Linked DNA regions of Homo sapiens. The protein of the gene in region 2 purifies or fractionates together with the protein of the main gene of each other region. This does not show direct contact. Each region holds a gene or a part of one and is shown on either strand. Other genes may lie near its edges. The genes, in order: AVL9, PER3, ANKRD36 and EMB.

Region 1 (3,572 bases), on a different chromosome or scaffold from region 2:
TACTTTTTTATAAATGTCATTTTTCTACAAAAAAAAAGATTAAGAATGAATACACAAATTGGTTCTTTCAGTCATGATGTTCTCTCCTTTGGACTTTATTTGGTGTTTCATTCTTGAATTTCCTAGCATTTCACTGTCAAAAACACTTAAAAAAGGCCAGGTGCAGTGGCTCATGCCTGTAATCCCAGCACTTTGGGAGGTCGAGGAGGGCGGATCACTGGAGGTCAGGAGTTCGAGACCAGCCTGGCCGACATGGCAAAACCCTGTCTCTGCCAGAAATACAAAAATTAGCCAGGCGTGGTGGCGGGTACCTGTAGTCCCAGCTACTCGGGAGGCTGAGGTAAGAGAATCACTTGAAACCAGGAGATGGAGGTTGCAGTGAGCCAACATCATGCCACAGCACTCCAGACTGGGCAACAAGAGCGAGACTCTGTCTCAAAAAACAAAACAAAACAAAACAAAAAAAGTCTTAAAAGAATATACTGAAAACTGATAAAGTTTTCAGCTTTATCAATACCATGGGAAAGCATCCATATGTGTTTCCTCCGCTTGGAAGATTAGAAATGGTTTGGAGAACTGATACAAATGGCTATTACTTCATATATTAATTGCATGTTGTTTACTTTGAAGGTGAAATACAAAGTACCTTTTGTTGCTAGGAAAGGAAATGAATGAGATACACAGTTCCATACACAGCATAAAGAAGTTGTTCTAAGAACACTTCCTCAAGCAGTTCATTGGGCTGAATTTCCTCTTTTGACCTTGTTACTTGTAAGAGTATGGGCCTAAGCCAAACTGTTTGGGATCAGATCCCACCTAAGCCTCTTATGAACCTCTGTGAGCTTCATTTTCTCTTCTGTAAAAGGCAATGACAAGGTCCCTACCTTCAGGATTGCTGTAAGGATGAAATGAATTACTAGATGTAAAGTGCTCAGAACACTGGTCCCTGCATATATTTAATGTTCAAAAAAAAAAGTGAGCTACTATTATTCAGTGCTTACAGCCTCCTGGGCAAATATTTTTAAAAAAGCAAATTAATTAATTTGCTTAAAAGCAAATTAATTAAGCTACATGGCAGTGGAGACTGAAGTTTTCTTTCTAGATTACCAAATGATTTGGGGTTAAAGGATTTAATTTTGGTGTCTCAGCTGCTACATTGTTAGTGGTGGCAAACATTTAAAAATATCTCATTAACAAACGAGGGCTTGTTCCTCAGCTGTCTTTTACAAATGAAAAACTCTCCCGAAACCTACTTTAAAACTCCTATGTGCACTGTAAACAACTAACCTGGGAGCATGTGGTGGTGGTGTTGATTAAAAAAATCTACTGATACAACAATGAATGTATCTAATGCCACTGTGGAACTGTACATTTAAAAATGGTAAAGATGGTAAATTTTATGCTATGTGTATTTCATCACAATTAAAAAAATAATGGTTAGTTAACTGAAACAAAAACACAAGCTCAACACATTTTTAACAACTCTAATAAATATCTGCCAAATGTCCAAGGTGAAAAGCTCACTGCAGAGCTCCATTTTCACTATTTATATATTTCTTTCCCAAGGAGAATGAGATAGTTTTAATGCAGGAGTAACTCCATGTTTACCTGCTCCATTTTAACCATTTAATACGAATAATAATATTTCTTAGAATGGGTTATAAATTTGAAGATTTAATCATTTACAACACGATTTTCAATGATTTCTATTTTTTATATTCTTTCTCCCTTTATACATCTTAAAAAACATGTGGCAGTATTCACAAACAGCTGCCAAATACTGATGAATATGAAGCAGTCATGTAAAAGTGATGATATATGTTCATGTTATGTTGGTATGTGTTGTTTCTATTATAAAGTAATAGTTTCAGAAAACATGTATAAAGGGATCCATTTTTGTAAAAGGACCACCAAAAGTACCATAAAACCAAAATCCAAAATACATGCATAGGAAAAGATTTGCAAGGCTATAAAGTACTAAAGACGTTAAAAGTGGCTATCTTTGTATGAGGGAATAACTGGTAATTTTTCTATAAGGAATATGTATTTATTGTGCAATCCAAAATCTCATAAATGTTACAAAATGAAAAATTATAATAAAACAGGTAGCTGTAGGCTCCGTGTGGTTTCTTACCTAATTGCAGTGTGGCAGCCAGCAGGGCATGAATGTAGACCGCAAACTGGGCCCGGATCCATTCGTCACCTCCCTCCCAGCCCGTGCCATCTAGGAAGACGTCATCCCGATTCTCAGTCACGTGCCTCACTAGGTAGTCTGCGAACCTTAGGTCTGCAGTGGTTGGGTTAAGCAGCTTCCTGAGTTCTGGATCATGGATCTGGATCAGAGCTTCTTCTACCTAGAGGGTATCCAGGTACAAGTCAGAGTCTGGGCATTCACGCAGACATCCATGCCACACTTTACAGAGTAACTACGGGGAAGGTGGAGCTGGAAATAAAAAATATGAATAATGGCATTCTCAAAAGGTGAGTCTAAGAAAGAGGTTTGTACACTGAAGTTTTCTTTCTATTTATAAAATGCTCATTTTCTGTTTTTAGAAAATACACACATAAATATAGTATTTTAAATTACAAAATTACTCACCTAGATTGCAAATATTTGGGAAAATATAGAAATACATGTAAAAATCACCTTTATTTCACTAGCAGAAATGAACACATTTAACAAGTATAATTCCTTAAATACTTTTTCTTTTGCGTGCAGATACTTTAGAATATTCTTTTTTTTTTTTTTTTGAGACGGAGTCTTGCTCTGTCGCCCAGGCTGGAGTGCCATGGCACAATCTTGGCTCCCTGCAAGCTCTGCCTCCTGGGTTCATGCCATTCTCCTGCCTCAGCCTCCTGAGTAGCTGGGACTACAGGCGCCCACCACCACGCCCGGCTAATTTTTTGTATTTTTAGTAGAGATGGGATTTCACCATGTTAGCCAGGATGGTCTCGATGTCTTGACCTTGTGACCTGCCCACCTCGGCCTCCCAAAGTGCTGGGATTACAGGCGTGAGCCACCATGCCCGGCCAGATACTTTAGAATATCTTATTATGTAATATTTGATATACTAAAAAATACATGTAACTTACAGGTTAGTTTTGAAGTATAATAATAAAAGAAATTCCTACGAACCCACCAACCAACTACAGAACTAGAATGTAACCAATAATGATGAAGCAGCTTTATGGTCCTCCCATCTGTATCCTCCTGTCTTGGAAAATGTATATACTTTTTCTTCTTCAAATTTGGGATTATAATAAATACATCTTTGAATCCTGGACTTTCATTATATTATAACCATTCACCCAAGAAACATGTTTTCATACTTTCTGTCAGAAACTACAAAAACCTCAGTGTGGCTGAATTTTTTTTTTTTCTTTTTTTTTTGAGACAGAATTTCACTCTATCGCCCAAGCTGGAGTGCAGTGGCACGATCTCGGCTCCCTGCAACCTCTGCCACCCGGGTTCAAGCGATTCTCCTGCCTCAGCCTCCCGCGTAGCTGGGATTACAGGCACCTGCCACCATGTCCAGCTAATTTTTGTATTTTTAGTAGAGATGGGATTTCAC
Region 2 (3,572 bases):
CATGTTGGCCAGGATGTTCTCGACCCCTTGACCTTGTGATCCGCCCGCCTCCGCCTCTGCCTCTCAAAGTGCTAGGATTACAGGTGTGAGCCACTGTGCCCAGCCTCCTATTGCATTATTATCTAGTTTTCTCATGAGTATGTCTCTTCTCAATCAAAATACGAACTCCTTGTGGCAATAACCAAGTCTTATTTTTTGTATCTCGCAACAGAAGTGAGCTGAATACACAAGAATCAAACCAACTGCAAAATAAACTCAGAACATAATCCACTGTTGCTGGCTTCCACGAGCCACTATACTTACCGGATCCTGCAGAAAAAAGGTTTCACCGGAGCACATTCATACCGTGCAGCTGCTAGAAAGAAAGATGCCTGGTCAGTCACTCCCTCTTATCCAGGTCTTTCTCAGTGAAACAATGTTGCACCATTATCAAACAACAAACTATTTTTTAAAAGAGAGAGAGGTCTCCTTGATTAAAATAGAACCCCCTTCCTTCATTTTGAGATCCAGTCACAATACTAGAATTGGGAAATACTAGTATTGGTTTTGGTACTGGAACCGTGAACCTCAGGTATAACAGTGAGAATCGGCTTTATCTCTTCCCCTTACTACTTTTCATAGTTCCCAAACTGCCCATGTTCATCATCTCAAAGGTCAATGTAATGATCCTTGGACACAATTATTCTGGTGGTAATATTCCATCCCATTGTAATAGTCTGGACCTTTCTAAAAAGTTGGGAATTCAGACTATTTTCAGCTTCTTAGCTATACGATATATAATTTTCTTTTTTTCTTTAAGCTCTTTCTTTGGATAAATTTCAAAAAGTTGTGTTCCTAGGTTAAATGATAGAATCGTTTTATGACTTTATTGTGTATGGATAAACCTCCAGAAAACTGTACCAATCTTCAGAGTTTTATTAATGTTTTCTCACAACCCTCATGCCAATGATTTGCTAGCAATTCCATTGATTTCTGCACCCATTTTATTGATTTATGAGGTGATAATTCAGAAATGTCTAAATTTGCCTTAGGAGATGAGGGGACTGAAATTTCTGCCCAGTGTTTGTTGACTATATGTATTTCCTCTGATTAGAGCTTCCTGAATATCTTTTGGGCATTTGTTCACTGAAACAAGAAGTCTTCAGTTATAGGAACCATGGAAAACTGTGAGATGTTCAAAAAATATACACTGAAGGTAGCATAAACAGTGAAAATCCAAAACAACCAAAATATTGAATAAGCAGCCCAGGTCTTGATACTTCTAAGAGACGATCACAGAAGAGTCAGAAAGCATTAATAAAGCACTGAAGATTGGTATAATCTTCTACAGAAAACGGCCTCTACTGTGAGGTCAGTTTGCTTATACCATTTATTCATCACACCAGACACATGAACTCCAACTGCACTCACTAGAAGTCCTGGACCACTGAAAGCTAGACTACGTGATCTAAGACAGCAGACGTGCACCCACAATGCATTTCCATTCCTAGGCTGTAAATATGTGATGCTTGTTTCTAAAAGCGTACTCTGAAGAAGTAATGGTCAGATCCTTCTAAGAGGTTTGTACAAGACATGTTAAATAGAAACATATTCTAATACAGGACCAGAGGTTGACAACAGCTGAGTGGATTGCTTCCTAAGTCCTCTTGATGTTCTATGTGCTCAAAGTAAGGAATCGAAGGGGGTAACGCAGGCATAGCCTATAAAGGGGGTGGCATTAACCAACTGCTCTCAGTATCAATCCTTGAGATTCATAAGGCAAAAGTACAATATAAAGAGTAAACTAGAATTATATCGTGCCTTATGGCATAAGTGAATTTTGAGATCCAAAAGAATTATTTCAGGGCATATTAAGATTTTACATAAAAGGTGATATGGTTTGGCTGTGTCCCCACCCAAATCTCATCTTGAATTGTAGTTCCCATAATCCCCACATGTCAAGGGAGGGACCTGGTGGGAGGTAACTGAATCATGGGGGTGGTTGCCGTCATCCCGTTCTCGTGATAGTGAGTTCTCATGAGAGCTCATGGTTTTATAAGAGGCTTTTCCCCCTTTTGCTTGGCGCTTCTCCTTGCTGTTGCCACGTGAAGGACATGTCCCCGTCTGCCATGATTGTTAAGTTTCCTGAGGCCTCCCCAGCCATGCTGAACTGAGTCAATTAAAACTCTTTCCTTTAGAAATTACCCAGTCTTGGGTATGTCTTTATTAGCAGCATGAGAATGGACTAATACAGTAAACTTGTACTGCAAAGAGTGGGGTGCTGCCATAGATACCCAAAAATGTGGAAGTGACTTTGGAACTGGGTAACAGGCAGACACTGGAACAGTTTGGAGGGCTTAGAAGAAGACAAGAAAATGTGGGAAAGTCTGGAACTTCCTAGAGACTTGTTGAATGGCTTTGACCAAAATGCTGATAGTGATATGGACAATGAAGTGCAGGCTGAGGTGGTCTCAGAGAGAGATGAGGAACTTGTTGGGACTGGAGTAAAGGACACTTCTGCTATGCAAAGAGACTGGCAACTTTTGCTCCTGGCCTAGAGATCTGTGGAACTTTGAACTTGAGAGAGATGATTTAGGTATCTGACGGAAGAAATTTCTAAACAGCAAAGCATTAAAGAGGAAGCAGAGCATAACAACTTGGAAAATTTGTAGCCTGAAGATGCAATGGAAAAGAAAAACCCATTTTCTGGGGAGAAATTCAAGCCTGCTACAGAAATTTGCAGAAGTAACAAGAAGCCAAATGTTAATCACCAAGACAATGGGGAAAATGTCTTCAGGGCATGTCAGAGACTTCACAGCAACCCCTCCCATCACAGGCTGAGGCCTACGAGAGAAAAAATGGTTTTCTGGGCCTGTCCAGGCCCCCACTGCTCTGTGCAGCCTTGGGACATGATGCCCTCCATTCCAGCTGCTTCACCTCCAGCCATGGCTAAAAGGGACCAAGGTACAGCTCAGGCCATAGCTTCAGAGGGTGCAAGCCCTATTCCTTGGCAGCTTCCATATGGTGTTGGTCCTGCAGGTGTGCAGAAGACAAGAACTGAGGTTTGGAAACCTCTGCCTAGATTTCAGAGGATGTACGGAAATGCCTGGATGTCCAGGCAGAAGTTTGCTACAGGGGCGGAGCCCTCATAGAGAACCTCTGCTAAGAGAGATGTGTAAGGGAAATTTGGGTTCGGAGCCCACACAGTCTTCACTGGGGCACTGCCTAGTGGAGCTGTGAGAAGAGGGCCACCATCCTCCAGACCTAAGAATGGTAGATCCACCAAAAGCTTGCACTGTGAGCCCAGAAAAGCCACAGACACTCAATGCCAGCCCATGAAACCAGCCATAAGGGAGGCTGTACCCTGCAAAGCCACAAGGGCAGAGCTGCCCAAGGCTGTAGGAGCCCACCTCTTGCACCAGCATGACCTGGATGTGAGACATGGAGTCAAAGGAGATTATTTTGGAGCTTTAATATTTAATTATTGCTTCAGTGGATTTCAGACTTGCAAGGGGCCTGTAGCCCCTTTGTTTTGGCCAATTTCTCCCATTTGAAATGGGTGTATTTACCCAATGCTTGTACGTCTATTGTAC
Region 3 (3,572 bases), on a different chromosome or scaffold from region 2:
AACCACTTAACCAAGGTCTAATTAAGTTCCACAAGTTTCCTCATCTTCCTGACTTCTTTGCCTATTACCCAGTTCCAAAGCAAATTCTGCATTATCAGGTATTTTTATAGCAAAACCCCACTCCTTGGTACTAATTTCTGTGTTAGCAACACAGAATAACACAGAAAAGAGCAACACGGAAAAACACAAATTTTTGTGTTGCTATAAAAAATTAGCTGAGACTAGGTAATTTATAAGGAACAGAGGTTTGTTTGGCTCACAGTTTTGCAGGCTGTAGAAGAAGAATGGCAGTGGCATCTGCACAGCTTCTGGTCAGGGACCCAGAAGGCTTTTACTTGTGGCTAAAGGTGAAGAGACAACGGGTATGACACACATGGCTAGAGAGGTAGAAGAGACGGGAGAGGTGCCACACTGTTTTAAACAACCACCTTTCGTGTAATGCAGTGAGAACTCACTCATTAGTGAAAAAAGGGCAAGAAGCTATCCAGGAGAGATCAACCACCATGACCCAAACACCTCCCACTAGGTCCCACCTCCAACATTGGGGATCAAATCTTGACACAATATTTGGAGGGTACAAATTTGCAAACAATATCACTCTCTTTTTGTCTTTAACTTTGGACAATTTGATTATAGTGTATCTTGTTGTGAGTCCCTGGATTCACCTTATTTGGTTTCCTTTGGGCTTTCTGGATCAGGCTTTCTGTTTTCTTCCCCATGCTTGATAAATTCTCTGTCATTATTCCTTTAAACACTTTTCCGTTCCTTTCTTCCTCACTTCTCCTTCAGGCATGCCAATAATGTGTGAGTGGTCCTGCTTGATGGTGTCCCATAACTCTCTAAAGTTGTCTTCACTCCGTTTGCATTATCTTTTTTTCTGATCCTCAGGTTAGATAATTTCCAGTGACCAGTCTCAAAGTTCACTGATAGATTCTATTAATGGACACCTCTATTAAATTTTTTCAGTTCAGTTACAGTACACTTTAGATCTATGATTTGTTTGACATTATTGTATAACGTTTTTCCTTTTCTTGAAGTTCTCAACTTGTTCTTGCAAAGCTATCTTGACCTCAGTGATTATTGTTATGACCATTATTTGGAAATCTCTGTCAGATAAATTACATATCTGCACTTCACTCAGGTGCTGGAGATTTATCTTGTTTTCTTGCTTTGAATATATTTCCCTGTTTCTTCATTTTTCCTCGACTCTCTCTGTTGGTTCCCGTGCATTTGATAAGACTGGCCTCATGTAGGAAAAGGATCTCACCAAACTTTCCAGCCAGAGATCTTCAGGTACCTCTCAAGTCCTTGTGTGCTCTAGTATTGACTGTTTTTGGTGGCTCCCTGGAACTTAGGATGTGCCACGCCTTGTCAGTAACCAGAAATTGGTTAAGGTAGGAGCCAGACAATCCAGATGTAGCTAGAAAGTTAGAAGGCTGGAGGAGTGTTTCAGTTCTTTCTAGCTACATGATGAAGATTAGTATGGACATTTATCTCCCACTCTCTCTCCATTAAGCTTGGTAGAGGATCTGTGACAAACACCTATGCACACTCTGGATGCAGCCTCTGATCCTGAGGAGATAGCTTCTGAATGTGGGCCCATTGTATGCTTACTTCTTTGTTTTCTATGGTCTAAATACATTCAAAAATACAAAATCCTGTCGACTCACAGAGCAGAGTTCTTAAGAAAACAGTTCCTTGGGCACTAACCACGGAGGTTGTGGAATTTCAATGCATAATCAAGCTCCTTCTGGGAGCTTGATTCAATGCATAATCAAGCTCCTTCCGGGAAGAATGGGTAGGCTTGGATTTATTACTGGGTTGAACCCGACATAAGACTGGTAGTGTCAAACTATGGTTCCATCTGCCAGATGAATTGTACTTTGTAAGCCACATTAGCCCCCATGATGCCAGTATTTAAATACAAAGCTAGAAATGATTAATAGGGTGAGAAAAGCATGTTGAAAGCTCAGATAGGCTGAAAGCTAGGCAACTTACATCAAACAGTAAACTAAGCTGTGAATGCAAAAAAAAAAAAGTTCTTAAAGGAAATTAAACAGACTACTCCAGTGAATGCACAAATGATAAGTACAATGGTATTATTGCTGATGTGAAGACAGTTTTAGTGGTCTGGATAGAAAATCAAATGAGCCACAACATTTCGCTAAGCCAAAGCTGAATCCAGAGCTAAGCCCTAACATTCTTTAATTCTATGAAGTCTGACACAGGTGAGGAGGCTGCAGAAGACAAGTTTAAAGCTAGCAGAGGTTGGTTCATGAGGTTTAAGAAAAGAATCTTCATAACATAAAAGTGCAAGGTAAAGCAGCCAGTGCTGATAGAGAAGCTGCAGCAAGTTATCCAGAAGATCTAGCTAAGATCATTGATGAGGGCAGTTATGCTAAATAACAGATTTTCAATGTAGACAAAACAGCATTATACTGGAAGAAGAGGATACCTAAAACTTTCACAGCTATAGAGGAGAAGTCAATGCCTGGCTTCTAATCTTCAGAGGACAGGCTGACTCTTTATGTACTGGCTAATGCAGCTGGTTACATTAAAACATTAAAGGCAGTACTCATTTACCATTCTGCTACATTTTTAAGTTCTTCTAAACCTATGCTACCTATACTCTATAAATGAAACAACAAAGCCTGGATGAAAACACATCGTTTACAGTATGGTTTACCAAATATCTTAAGCACACTGTTGAGACCTATTGTCCAGAAAACGTGTGTGTGTGTGTGTGTGTTTGTGTGTGTGTATATGTGTATGTGTGTGTATGTATATATGTGTGTATATATATATATATATATATATATATATATATCTTTTAAAATATTACTGCTCATTGACAATGCACTCATAACCCAAGAGCTCTGATGGAGTTGTACAAATAGATTAATGTTGTTTTCATGCCTGCTAACACAGCATTCATTCTGAAGCCCATGGATCAAGGACATTTTATTATTTAAGAATACATTTTGTAAGCCTATACCTGCCATAGACAATGATTCTTCTGTGTATCTGCACAAGGCAAATTAAAAATCATCTGGATTTTTTTAGAAAGCAATCACTATTCTAGATGAAATTAAAGATATTTGTGATTCCTTGGAGGAGGTCAAAATATGAAGTTTGGAAGAAATTGATTTCAGCCCTCATAGATAGCTTGCAGGGTTTCAAGACTTCAGTGGAGGAAGTAACTGTGAGTGTGATGGAACTAGGGAGAGAACTAAGAGTAAAACTGGAGCCTGAGCCTGTGACTGAATTTCTGCAGTTTCATGATCAAACTTGAATGTACTAAAAGTTGTTTCTTATAGCCCATCCATCTGAGATGGAATCTATTCCTCGTGAAGATACTGTAAACACTGTTGAAATGACAAAAAAACACCTATCTTATTATACAAACTGAGTTGATAAAGCGGTGGCAGCATTAGATAGGATCGACTCTCATTTTGAAAGGTGTTCTACTGTGAGGTAAAATGCTATCCAACAGCATGGCACACTACAGATAAACCTTTCATCAAAGGAGTCAAGTGATGCAGCAAACTTTACTGTTGTTTTATTTTAAGAAA
Region 4 (3,572 bases), on a different chromosome or scaffold from region 2:
TTACTGGTGCCGTGCACTATTCCAATTAGGCGAGAGTGAAGAACACATTGAGCTTGTGGTGCTGAGCTATTTGGTGCCCCTCAAACCATTTCTTGTAATAGTGGCTGAGGTGATTCTTTTAGTGGCCACCATTCTGCTTTGTGAAAAGTACACACAAAAGAAAAAGAAGCACTCAGGTGGGATTTCTTTTTTTTGTTTTTTGTTTTTTTTAGAAAGTATTATCAGTTAATTATAAGTATCATTTACTTATGATATGGATTATGATTTGATACATTGCAATGACTTTAGGATTTTTGGGGAAAATCTTCATTTTCTTATTTGGAGCAGTATTTAGGTTTACAACAATGGTGACAGTGAGCTGGAAACATATACCCATGGTCTTCCTGTTTCAATTCCTGAAAAAACTTAGTATTAAAAATGCCTTTTTTCTTTCTCTTCCCCCACCACCCCCCTCTTTTTTTTTTTTTTTTTTTTTTTGGTGCTACTGGTACCTAAGTACCAATTAGGTGATATGTATTCTGGCACTGGAATATTAGAAAAATCTATGATAGCTTAATATAAAAAGTCTAAAAGAAACAATTTTTCTTTCACTTAGATTATCATTTAAAAAAATATTTTATTAACCATTCCAGAGTTCTCATTAAAGAGAGACCATCCTGTCATGTCCTATTTTTGCGGCCTGTGCCTGATGGGTTACAGGTTGATAAAGCAGTAATCCTCTAGAAAATTGACCTTACGTCCTGTATTCTTTCCTGATTTTATACTAAATTTTTAATGATTTAAATAATGACAAACTAAGCAGTCATGTTTTTGAAAATACCAGGCCACTAAACTATGTTTGATCAGAAATGCAGATAAGGTCTGTAGTGCAGATAAAGGAGGTGTAGGTGTTTAAGGTAGCATGTCTCTCCTTCATTCCAAACAGGAGAAACAGCATAGTACTTACTTACTTAGGAAGGAGGTTTAATTGAGCATATATGTTCCATAAAAGTGACAAACCAACTTCACAGTCAAATTCTTCTTTTGTTACACAGATGAGGGGAAAGAATTTGAGCAGATTGAACAGCTGTAAGTATTATTTTTTACAGATTAATTTTCACTTGGGTAAAATACAGGGAAACATAAAATTGAATGAAATGTTTGCAGTTAGGGGGAGAAAAGGCAGAGGAGTATTTTCTGTATATGTCCACGTGGTGGTGGAAAGTGGCTTTCCAAGTCTGCCTACCTGCGTGAGAATTCTTCTTCATCACTTACTACCTGCACTTCTCTGTACTTCAGCTTTCTTCTCTACAAAATGGATTTAATAATAGTACTCACCATATGAGGTTGTTGGATGGAATGAATATTATATATGTGTAAATGCATAGCATAGGTTATGGTGCACAGAAGGTGTGCAGTAACCATCAGGAAGTATTTAATATTATTATTTTTAAAGCAATAGTTCTCAAGCCTGGCAATTTTTGATCACTTAAGAGCCTCTTTAAAAAAATACAGTTGCTCAGACCTTGCTGAATCTCCTGGATCAGAACCTCTTGGGTTGGGGCTATGGCATCTGTTATTTCTTGAAAACATCTACAAATGGTTTTGATCCTCTGTCTGTTGAAAATCACTGGCCTAGAATTCTATTAGTTATTATTATTCAGAGAACACAAATTGTGCCACAGGTTCTCTTACACAGCCTTTGTTTAGAGTTAAGCATGAGGAGGTCTGGAAATAAAATCACCAGGGATGTAATTTAGTTTGGCAAAGATGGGAGTTCCGAATTCCTCGAAGCCAGAGAACTGAGTATGGAGGCCAGTGACAGAGGTGTCCAAGACTGGGATTAAAGCCTGAACAATAGAGCCAAGGGCTGGAGTCCAGGAAAACGAGGCTAGATTAAAGTTGCTGCAAGAAACCTGAGAAGTGGAAGGCCTGAGCAACTATAACTAACACAAAATGGCACTTAGAGTTTATCAGCCAACAGGAGCTCTATGGAGTGAGTGTTACAGGCATGGATAGCAGGAGTGGAGCAGACAGTTGTCATTTAGATGTTTGTAGACATTATTCAGATAATCATGTTGACTCCATTCACATAGGCTGCTAAAATAAACCAATATGATATGAGCTTCCAAGTTAAGGGCACAAAATAACTACATCAGAAATCCTATAACACCAGATAGAGAAAAGCAATGTTGTCTTAGAATCATAGACTCCCATAGTTGGAAGGGAATTGTATCTCTCCCAAGAGAATCCCTTCTCTTTCTGGAGAACATAGATATCTTATTTATGTTGATTTGAACTTTTAATCTTTCCTATTTCCACGTATTGGCGTTTTTCTTGTTCTTAGCATCATATAACAAACGTGACAGTCATTGACATATTTGAAAACAGAACCTTGCTCGGATTCCTCTATTCTCCGAGCTCTGCCTCCCACTGTCTCTAACCATTCTTCTGAGCTCACATTTGGAAGTTGCATTCTGATTTAAAACACACTCTGAAAGGATGGTACCAGAACAGTGTGGAATGGACCATCACTTCTGAACAATGTAAAATGGATTCAATATATAGTGTAAAAGATGAATTATTTTTCTGAAAATTGGATCAATGTACATCATTTTGCTCATCTTGTATAGCACCATAAGGATCACTGAAGGTGTTTAGTTTTTCTTCAGGTTATTTCACTATCTTTAGATTGTATACAAATATCAAGGGCACTTGAAATCATTCAGAACAATGAGCTTCTTGATGTCCCTCAAACCATTTCTTGCAATAGTTGCTGAGGTGTTTTCTTAGTGGCCATTATTCTGCTTTTGAAGAGTACACACAAAAGAAAAACAAGCACTCGTGGGATTTCTTTTTTTTTAGAAAATATTAATTATCAGTTAATTGTAAGTAACACTGTCTTATAATATGCATTATGATTTGATAATTGACGCCTGCCCCCAAGACCTTGAAGGGCAAGGTATTCATTATGCATACTGGTTATTTAGTTTCCGTCAATCTTTAGAATCTGAGGCCCACATTTGTAGTCCTGCTCTGATAAACTTTGGGTGGAAAAAGAACCATTTTTAACCTCTATTTCAGTGTAATAAGCATACAAATGTATAGCACCAATATCACACATGTTGGCTGACCTCCTAATTGGCTATTACCTTGCATGTTTCCAAAACCACACATAAGTTATGGTCTTTACGCCCAAGTCCTCACTCATGCTTGGGGAGAAGCAATTCTCCCTGTGCATAAAATCAACAAGCCTTTGTCACTATCATTTGTGGTAACAGCTCCTCTTCAAGCAATGCCATAAAATAAATTCAACATTGTAAGTAAAACATTTTTAGGAAGAAAGAATTCTGTCCGTATTGACATTTTACATTTTAACCTGATAGCCATATCAGTGATGTACTGACTTAATTTTATATAATATAAGCATTTAGTAATTTTCTTTTTTGTTTTCTGTGCAGGAAATCAGATGATAGCAATGGTATAGAAAATAATGTCCCCAGGCATAGAAAAAATGTAAGTTACTTCTGAATGATATTCCAAATAAAAGGTCAAATTCAATATACATAGGCTATCTATCAATCAGTTACTTT

Evidence for each region.
Region 1: the proteins of PER3 (region 2) and AVL9 purify together in Homo sapiens (affinity purification with mass spectrometry; one large-scale study listed by BioGRID and IntAct). This does not show direct contact.
Region 3: the proteins of PER3 (region 2) and ANKRD36 purify together in Homo sapiens (affinity purification with mass spectrometry, with the first as the bait; one large-scale study listed by BioGRID). This does not show direct contact.
Region 4: the proteins of PER3 (region 2) and EMB purify together in Homo sapiens (affinity purification with mass spectrometry; one large-scale study listed by BioGRID and IntAct). This does not show direct contact.

Annotation. Positions count from the first base shown.
Region 1 is NC_000007.14:32,571,981-32,575,552, reverse strand, and holds part of AVL9 (late secretory pathway protein AVL9 homolog), read right to left. Parts: intron 2,444-3,572; coding exon of another isoform or gene 2,355-2,443; coding exon 2,135-2,354; intron 1-2,134. UniProt on the Homo sapiens protein: Functions in cell migration.
Region 2 is NC_000001.11:7,790,740-7,794,311, reverse strand, and holds part of PER3 (period circadian protein homolog 3), read right to left. Parts: intron 356-3,572; coding exon 304-355; intron 1-303. UniProt on the Homo sapiens protein: Originally described as a core component of the circadian clock.
Region 3 is NC_000002.12:97,259,603-97,263,174, reverse strand, and holds part of ANKRD36 (ankyrin repeat domain-containing protein 36A), read right to left. Parts: intron 1-3,572.
Region 4 is NC_000005.10:50,399,782-50,403,353, reverse strand, and holds part of EMB (embigin precursor), read left to right. Parts: coding exon 1-176; intron 177-1,034; coding exon 1,035-1,068; intron 1,069-3,440; coding exon 3,441-3,495; intron 3,496-3,572. UniProt on the Homo sapiens protein: Plays a role in the outgrowth of motoneurons and in the formation of neuromuscular junctions.